Linked DNA regions of Homo sapiens: all the other regions are reported to be linked to region 3. Evidence: microRNA targets listed by miRTarBase, many of them from high-throughput screens and not tested one by one. Region 3 holds a microRNA gene; each other region holds the end of a gene's coding sequence.
What was found. Region 3 holds the annotated microRNA hsa-miR-6817-3p (UCUCUCUGACUCCAUGGCA, at 859-877, shown strand). A microRNA usually pairs through its seed, bases 2 to 8, with sites in the 3' UTR of a target mRNA and lowers its output. Matches are read on the target gene's strand: a 7mer-m8 pairs with bases 2 to 8, a 7mer-A1 pairs with bases 2 to 7 and ends in A, and an 8mer does both.

Region 1 (3,139 bases), not on the chromosome of region 3:
CCCAGGTGAATTGGGGTCTCTCCCTCCCCTGGGTCCTTGGGGAGCAGCTGTGGGCTCCTACTGGTTCCCAGGGAGGTCTCTCCCGACTGGTCATCACCTGCTGTGCCAGGCTCTCAGTGTGGCTGGACTCCAGGAATCTCCCTCAGGCAAGGCTAGAAAGTGAGGAGCTGGGAACCCTTCACACCAGAAACATTACATAAATCGAGGCTTTTATTTACATCATAGGACAAGAAAAGGATACAAAAGAAGTCTCTTGGTCAAGCACATCAAGCGAAAGCTCTAAAACTCAATACTCAGTAAGGTGTGGGCACTGATATTGAAAAAAAGAAAAAAAAAGAAAGAAAAGGTAAAAAGGTAATCTGTGACACAATCCAAATGCTTACACTCCAGGGATTGAGTAAGAGAAACCCAGGGCAGCCCTGCCACAGAGAATGACGGCTCAGGTTGAGTGACATCTGAGATTCATCTTCTGTACCCGTGAACCTGACTCCCAGGACAACCCCTAGGAGGTTTTGACTTTTGACATTAGTGAGTTAATTCTTAACCAGATTCTTAAGAATTTCAGGGCCAAACAGGCTTGAATGTACGGTTTTTCCAATTTGGGGGATGGGAGTGGGGAAGCTCTTCCTGGGACAGATTCCCAGGCAAGGAAAGGCCCCAGCAGCTCTGTCCCCTACCCTGGGCTCTGCCTCCATCTCCCCACGAGAAACTTGTGGGCTGCCTGGGGCTCGTCAGCAGCCTGCACAGGCTCTCACTCTCTTTCCCACTCACTATGCTTGGCTTTTTCTTCCACTTATGACTATCTCTCCCTTTCTCCAACACCCAGTGTTGTGGGGCAAGCTGTAATTATCTCACGTGTGTGAAAATGTGCCATATCCACTTTCATCATCTGGGCTAAAACCAGATCACTTGTTTCACTTTTCCTCACAAATATTAACAATGCAGGAATTGGGTCCCAGTGAATCTTCGACATGAAGTTGAAGCTTCAGGAAGTGAAGCAGAGTCTAGCTCCACAGCTTCAACCTTCTCCTCTACCCCTTCCTTTTTTCTGTCTGTCTTTCTGTCTGTCTTGGTAGGGCTTGATTAGAGAAGCATGAGCGTTGAGGCCTCCTTTGTATGCCTTGGGACAACAGGTAGGTGCTGTCACTGGTCCTGCAGACTGTTCAGCAACAGCCCCTTTGGATTTCTGGATATTCTGGAAACAAAGTCAGAACAGTGGCCTACTGGGGGGTTGGCAGAGGGGTATGGTAAGAGGACCTCCTTTCATCTCCCTGTTCAGCATCCGATGGCAGTCCACAGGTCATCCTTGGTGGGTGTCAGGCCCAAGACCCATGCCCACCTTACCCTTTGAATCCAGGTGAGATGAGATCAAACCAGGCAGCACAGAAGAAGACAGGATGCTACAAAGGCAGCCAATGAGCTCATGGCCTCAGGGGTTTTAAGCACCAGCCCTGGCTACCCAGCCTCCCTTGTCCCTACCTAGAGGCACAGGCCCAGCCTACCTGAACTCCCTCACACTGATGCTCCAGACCTGGCTCCTGGACAGCAAACTTCTCTCTTCCAATGTCCTCTTGCCTCATTTCCATTTCCTTCACATCTGTCTCCTACTTACTGGTTCCTTCTCTAAATCTGTATTTTCATTCCTGGGTGTTATGTCTCCCCCCATCTCTCTCAGCCCCTATGTCCCACCCAGGACAAAGCACTCTTAGTTGGACTGGCAGAGAGGAGCTGAGCCAATGGCGGGAGTGCGCTGATGGTGCTAGTAGCACCCTGACCACAGCCAGCCACACCTTTGCAGGGACTCTGGTCGCTGCAAACACGTGGCTGGGCCGAAGTGGGCAATGCCAGGCAGAAGAGCCCTCCAGAGTAGTCCCTTAGCCAACCTGTCCCAGCCACCCAGCCTGCATCTGAACTTGCCCTTCTTCCTCCTTCCTCGCCAGCTTCACAGTCATGCAGGGATGGGGTAAAATGACAAGGTTTTATCTACTTTAAACAGTCATGCCACACTGCCAACACAGTTTTCAAAGCATCAAGATATCTTTTCTTCCTTTCTTCTCCTCAAGCCTGTAATTAAACTCCTGGTGACAGAGTGGTAGAGGAAGGAGATCGGGGAGCATGACTTGAGGAATAAACAGCTCCTTAGCTGCCCTCAGAACCGAGGCAGCCAAGGAATGTGAGCGCCTGTCAGCCTACGACCTTTCAGGAGAATACAGCAAATCATCTGACTCTAGTAACATCCTCTTCCTCCCCCAAGATCACTGTTCTGCTGCACACCCACACTGCTTGCATCTGTTGAGTGTTGGCTTCCGCCCCAGTGCCTGCCACCTTCACGTGAAGGCTCTGGCTTTAGCACGCTAGCTCCACTCCCAAACCTAACCTCCGCCGAATTCTCTGCAGGATTGACCACTGGGTCCACGTGTGACTGAGAGATGTGAGAAGCTCAGCAGATGGGCAGGGATGACTCACTCATCATACTAATGTGATTCAACAAAGAAAGGCATGTTTTCTCTTCCAAATATGCTGTGTGTTCAAGTCTGAGATGCTCCAGGATTCACAAAGTTCCCACAGCAGGGGCTCCCGTTCACTCTGGGGGCACCTGCCACAGCAGCTCCCATTAGCGCACGAAGGATACCACGCTGGTGGCTACCGCAAACGGGGCGGAGTAGGCTGCAGCGAAGCCTTGCAGGCCGATGACCACGTAGCGGCATCCTTTGATGATGACCTTCCCGACATTCTAGTGTTAGGAATAAAAGAGAAAAGCAAAGGATTAGGGTAGGCAACTTTTTAATTCTGCCATCTTTCATGAAAAAAAATGAGTCACGGCGACATATATAAAGATCATTTTTCCTGATTCTCTTGTGACAAATCAGCAAGTTACCACATTCCCACATCTCTGGTGGAAGGTGCCCACCTCCAGCCTAAGAATATGTAGCGGCTCACAGCAGACATCATCACCTTGCAAAGTGCTTTCAAGCACAGCTTATTTCCAGATAATTCAAAGACCTTCTTGGAAACAGCAGTAAGGCTGCTAATTCTAAAACTAAAGCAGTTTTATTTTGTTTTTTAAACCAAAGATCACTCCTCTTCTCTGTTCCAGCTAAAAATTACTGGACCGTCAGAAGGCTGGGTTAAGTTTTCC
Region 2 (3,115 bases), not on the chromosome of region 3:
AGTCTCTCTCTCTCTCTTTTTTTTTGGCTTAATAAATTTTTTAATGTATGATTATCATAACCTAATAGTGTCTTTGTCTTCACTGCAGTGGATTTCCGATCAAACTTTTCCCCTTCTTTTAATACTTTAGGGAATTTTCAAACGTCGGGATGTTTGGCTGTAATGCCCCAAGATTTGTTCTCCCTGAAAAAAATCATAGTGACAATTTATTAACTACAGAGCAACTTGGCTTTTAGGGGTCTGCAATTTCTATTTAGATTTACAAATATCCATTTGTGCTCAATAGACCTAACATGAAATCTTAATCATATTTAAGGTTTCGTTCCATGCAATTACTTTATATGCTAATTAGCCTTTTTATTCTAAAAATTGGACTGAGTCAAATCAGTGGGGCATTACTTTTGTTATAAGCAAATATATTCAAAGGTATTTCTAGGTTGAATTACACTGCCTGTGCAACAATGTGTAACATTTCATATGAATCAGAAGTTTGGAAGTCTAAAAACTATTTGTATGTTTAAATATTTCTAACAATGTTGTATTACCATTTGAAAAGCTTTTACATATAGATGCTGGAACACACTAGTACGGTTAAAACTTAAATAAAACTGATGGGAAAGAAAACTCCTTAGATTCAAAATGTTTTATTCACACAAATTTAATAGGATATATCACAATTGTTTGGTCCATAAATATTTAGGGGAAATAGTTTCTATACAATGCATTTATCAATAAACAAAGAAACATGGACAATTTTGCTAGACCACTTACTGTACTATAAACACGAAGCTCAATATATAAGATTATTGAATTTATCAACTATATTTGAAAGAGTGCACAACTGCTTTCTATGACATGTTTGTCCCCTCTAACAGGATACACCATAAAAAGAGTTTCAGAAATAAGAGGTAAAACAGTACAAAACTAGTGAGGTGTTAAAAGGGCTTAAAACAGTTAATTTAACAAACAACACATATATCCTGATTTTTCACAAACTTACTTCCAAGTTATATCATAAGGCACATAGGAGAACTGAGTTATAATTAGTCTACTTAATAAAGTAGATCTATATAGTACCATATATTGTTCTGTCAAAGAACAAAATTTATAAGTGTCAATATTTTACCTGTAAAAGTGTATTAATAAGATCTCAGCCTTACCAAGGTTGTTTGGTCTGGTTAGTGGTAAATGCCCAAAATGTAATAGAAGTATGAAAAGTCAAGATTTAAGCTCCATATAAGATGATAACCATACTTGCTAAATATATAATGGCAATCACACCTTTCTTCTGTTACAGTGTTAACTTATCTTCCATCATCTTTTTTTAAAAAATAAGCTACTTTCTGTGCTAATTTTCTAAAGACCCTGAGCAAAAGTTACAATAATGCACTTTAATGTGGGCAGTGAACTGTCAATATGTAACCACACATTTATACAGCCAGAAGGACACCTTTAAAATCTATTAAATAGCCACTTCGACCACCAAAGGAGATTTAAGGGGTCCAAAAAGTGGAAAATATGTGCAAAGTTATTCTTAACAATCCACTAAAGCAAGACATATATCTTGACTTCTTTTTTATTTTTTTAGGAAATCCACAATCTAATTGGTATTTAACTACAACAGAAGCGTAATAGATGAACATTCACCACTGCCCAGACCATTAAGATTTTAGCTTAAATTAAAAGAAAAAAATGCTACTGTAAACTAGGAAATATATTCAGATCAGCATCCACAAGGCTTCTGAGTTTATCTACTTTAAGACTAATAACTTCAAATCTCTAATATCAGAAAAATTATTTTCAATACATAAGTCAACCTATGTCAAAATAAAATAAAACAAAACAAAACCAATTGTTGGTATAAGTCTACCAGGCTGGGTATTTTAAACATTATTCATATAGAATGCCAGATACAATATCATGGTACAGCTGAAGCCAATTAATAGAGCTATTAATTAAATTATATTGATTTTTTTACTTCTTAAAACATTATATTTTGCTTATTTCCATTTTCCCTGGGAAAAAAAGTAACTAGAAAGAATGGTTTCCGAGCTATTGTTTTTAGCTTTAGGAGGTTAAAAGTATGGAATGTCAAAATCAATGCGGAATTTTCATGGATACATAGGGAGCTTAAGTATTTTTCAAATGTTGAAAAACAAATAACCAAGTAAAAAGTTTTTAGAGTTGTACACCCCTAAGAGAAGGAAAAGTCACATTCCTGTAATAGATTTCTCACCTAATTAATCATTACTATTTAAAATGTCTGTAGTTAATGCTTTTATTTCATCATATTCCTCACTTGAATTAACAGTTCAGGTAAGAAATAGAAATACTAAAAACAAGTTTTCAGTTTTAAGATTTAAAAAATGTAACGTTTTCAAAACTCCATAATCACACATACAATTGCAAGATTTAAAAAGTAACTAATTAATTATCTGGTTCTTTATTAACCTAATCATTTAAGTGGGAATATGATTATTTGCCCATAATAATACCACTCTTTTTTCTTTTTTCTTCGAGATTCTGGAAATAAGTAACATACAATTTTAAGAGGCACTTATTAGAATTATTCAAAAACTCTCCTTACCAACTGAAAGACCTAATTAATTTTTTTAAATCCAAATACACTTTGTAGACAAAATATATTCACTTAAAGGAGACAATACTGTAAACTCATTTGCCAAGTGGCTGCAGATGCTACACACCAAGCTGTTATTTTTATTCCCCAAATATCTTGTGGGTTAGAAGAAAAAAAAAGTCTTGTAAATAATAAAATAATAATAATTAGAATAATAATAAAAAGAAGAGGAAGAATTTAAAAACTAAAAAAAAAAAACCAATGTTAGAAAAGGTTTGTTAAGGTAGTTTGTGAGGGGCTTCCGGATTCGTGGCTGTCCATGTTAGAGGTCACGGATGTCACTACAGTGATAGTGGGATTGGTCAGGTCTGTTAAAGTGGTCGCAGTGCCGGGTGGAGTGAGAGCTCCGCTGTCTGCTGAGGGCGGGGCCGGAAGCGACGTGCCGTCAGCTTTATCAACACCCCCATTCTCCTGCCGCAAAAGGTTCCTTCTGAATTTGGCTCGTGCGTTTTGGAACCAAACCTGCAAACCAATCCC
Region 3 (3,139 bases):
CTTGACAACTGTTTTGTAAGGAACCATTGCCTGAAGTAGAATTGCTGGATCAAGACTACTTTTCCAAAAGAGGATAATAAACATGATCTCCTCTTTTGTTAATGACTTAGATCATTCCTCTGAAAAGCCATTATTGCACATTGCTGAAATGTTCGCCTCTGCACTGGTTGGTCCCAGAATGCTAATCATTTTGAGATTTGTGCCTTCTTTCTTCTATTTTCTGCTTTCTTCTATTAGCCATGCCCGACCTGAAAGCCATCCCTTCCTCTTTAATGTACTATTTTTCTTCTAATGTGGATCTACAAAAACAGAGTTTGGGCAGAGTCTAACAACAGGAACAAGAGAAGAAACAGATCCAAAGAGAGGGGCTTTGGGCCCAGAGATGTTCTAGAGTCAGTTCTCAGTGGTGAAGGCTGACTGTGCATCTCTCTTCCTAACTTCACTTGCAGCCGTGTCGTATTGATAGCTTGAAATCTGCCACAGTGGGAGCATTTACACCATGGAAATTGGCAAACGCTGCAAATCAAGAGTGTTAATTTTCGTTTTGTTTTTTGAGAGTTGGCTATTAACTTACCAGCATACTATTGGCTTTAGTGCATGGCGTCTATATATTGGTATTTGTTGCTGGGCCGTTATTTAGACTGCCTTCTTATTTCTTAACTGTGTTCCAGGTGGGTAAAGGCAGCATAGCACTGAGTTCTAGATAACTGAGGGGATTTTGCACTTGGATTTGCTGTGCTAAGGTTTGGGTGGGGCTATTACATCTTGCCGGGCTGGGCAAGAGTGAACCCTAGGGGTCAACATCAGTAGCCAGGATTCTGCCATAGGAAGCTTGGAGTGGAACTGACCTGCCCCCTTTCTCTCTGACTCCATGGCAGCTGGGTGAGCTATGAACAGGCCAACTGCAAGGGCGAGCAGTTTGTGTTTGAGAAGGGCGAGTACGCCCACTGGGACTGGTGGACCAGCAGCCAGAGGACAGACTCAGCAGCCTGAGGCCCATCAAAGTGGTGAGCCCCCTGCCATCATCCTACTTTCTCTCTCTGCCACCTTGGAGCAGGAGGTCCTGGGACCAGGAAGGAGCCCGCCCCTCTAGCATTGTGCCCCTTCTGATTGGTGAGGAACCTCCTCACTGGGTGACCTTGCAAAAGTCATTTTACTTCCCTGAGCCTCAGTTTCTTCATCTGTAAAATGGGCATATTGGTATCTACTGTCCTGAGGTTCCAATGTGCTTATTAGCTTGAGGGTTGTCACACTGCAACTCCAGAAGGCTCCAATCACAAGACTATGAAATGCTCCAGAGGGCACTATTCACATTCTATTTTAGGTGGTTGGTGCCCGCCCCCCGCGCCCAAGGGTTGGGCAACTCCCGTCATTGCTCAATAACCAATAGCCATCAGAAATACTACAAGAAATTATGAGTTTGGGGCTGGAGGAGAAGGTGGTTTAGCTCTTCTTCAAGACTCGTGCCAGTGTGAGTTTTCAGTGCTTCTGAGATCCTGATTCTTACTAGTGTGTGAGAGTGTCAACTCTCAGGAAGGGGACAGGGCCCATCACTGCTCAGTTACACTCTCAAACCCTCCAAGCCCAGTCTAGCTCCTCCCAGGACCTACTGGAAGGTTGGAGAACACTGGACTTTGCACCCCACAGACCTGGGTTCCCAAGTTGGCTGTGCTGCTCCCAGCTGTGTGGCCTTGAGCACGTCATTTGACCTCTCTGTGCCGCACTTTCCTCATCTGCTAAATGGCATAAGAGGATTTTATGTCTGAGGGATAAGGGTTTTATGTGTAAAGGATGAGATGAGATAACTAAGGAAAATGTCATAGGGACAGGAGGATGGGAAGAGATGTAGAAATGAAGAAAAATCAAAGTATCTCAGGTGCCTATTAGAGGCACAGTTAGCCTGTGCATGTGTGTGTGTACATGTGTGGGTGTGCATGTGTGTGCACGTGTGTGTGTGCAAGTGTGCACGTGTGTGCACACATGTGTGGGTGTGCATGTGTGTGTACATGTGTGGGTGTGCACGTGTGCGCGCGCGTGTGTGTGTGCAAGTGTGCGTGTGTGCCTGTATGTGTGCACGCTTGTGTGGGTGTGCGTGTGTGTGTATGTGTGGGTGTTCATATGTGGGTGGGTAGGTAGATCGTAGCCACCATTTATAAAAGAGAAACTTGAGGAGGAAAAAATGACATTTCAGAATCAAACATTCCCCAAAGTGTTGCAGAGTGTCTGTTACATGAAAATGGCCCAGTAGAAACTTAACAAACGGCTGTGATCCAACAGCAGTGGTCATAGACACGTAGTGGGTGCATTGGGAAGAGAGTGATGTGTGGGACATGCTGATCCCAACTCTGGGGCATGAGCATGGGGTGGGAAGGCCAACCCTGGGCCCCCTCACCCATACTCACTTCCCCCCATCCTCTGCCAATAGGACAGCCAAGAGCACAAGATCATCCTCTATGAAAACCCCAACTTCACCGGGAAGAAGATGGAAATCATAGATGACGATGTACCCAGCTTCCACGCCCATGGCTACCAGGAGAAGGTGTCATCTGTGTGGGTGCGGAGTGGCATGTAAGTGCATTGCCAGCCCTGGCTCACCCTGCCCCAGGAACTGAGACTCTGGGGTCCTAAGTCCTGCTCTGCCCTGTACACACTGGTGATCTTGCACACATCAATGTGCTCTGCTGACCTCTGGCTTCCCACTGGAAAGTAAATGGGAATTCTCTGCCCATAGGTGGCTTACAGCCGCTGAATTTCTTTCTAGAGCTGCCTTTGGGGAAATGGTATGCCTTTGGAGTGGAGAAACCTTGGCCTTAACCTCAGCCCCAGTGAGCAAGACATGTATGTCAGAGGGGCAAGTTGAGGCAGAGGGAGGATTAGGTTGAGGCAGGAGGGAAGGAATGAGTTGAGTAGTCTGAAAGCTATGAGAAGCAGGAGGACCAGCCCATGCTGCCTTTGACCACTTGTGTCCCTAAGTTTGGGAACAGGAGGTGTCATTTTCCACTGAATCGAAGTTCCTGGGCACATCGACCCTGGCCATCAGCAGTGAGGGATTTCTCATGGTAAAAAATTTGGATTCCATGGGGGTCCACAGATGAGCTTTGGGCAGCGGTGTGCTGGAAATAGCTTATACCAGCTTGTA

Region 1: miRTarBase lists C1orf115 as a target of hsa-miR-6817-3p. Seed matches in the 3' UTR shown: 7mer-A1 at 1,666-1,672 and 7mer-A1 at 1,553-1,559.
Region 2: miRTarBase lists LHX9 as a target of hsa-miR-6817-3p. Seed matches in the 3' UTR shown: 7mer-A1 at 11-17, 7mer-A1 at 9-15, 7mer-A1 at 7-13, 7mer-A1 at 5-11 and 7mer-A1 at 3-9.

What each region holds. Positions count from the first base shown.
Region 1 is chr1:220,696,207-220,699,345 of GRCh38, reverse strand. It overlaps C1orf115 (chromosome 1 open reading frame 115), which reads right to left. Exons shown (of 2, transcript NM_024709.5): 2 at 193-2,734. The coding sequence ends at 2,615. Among named protein-coding and RNA genes, the nearest start is that of C1orf115, 7.4 kb to the right of the region's middle. RefSeq lists an enhancer at 1,742-2,941.
Region 2 is chr1:197,928,987-197,932,101 of GRCh38, reverse strand. LHX9 (LIM homeobox 9) reads right to left here. Exons shown (of 5, transcript NM_020204.3): 5 at 1-3,100. The coding sequence ends at 2,843. Among named protein-coding and RNA genes, the nearest start is that of LHX9, 13 kb to the right of the region's middle.
Region 3 is chr22:25,454,834-25,457,972 of GRCh38, forward strand. It overlaps MIR6817 (microRNA 6817), which reads left to right and starts at 813; the gene lies at 813-878. It also overlaps the pseudogene CRYBB2P1. RefSeq lists an enhancer at 880-983.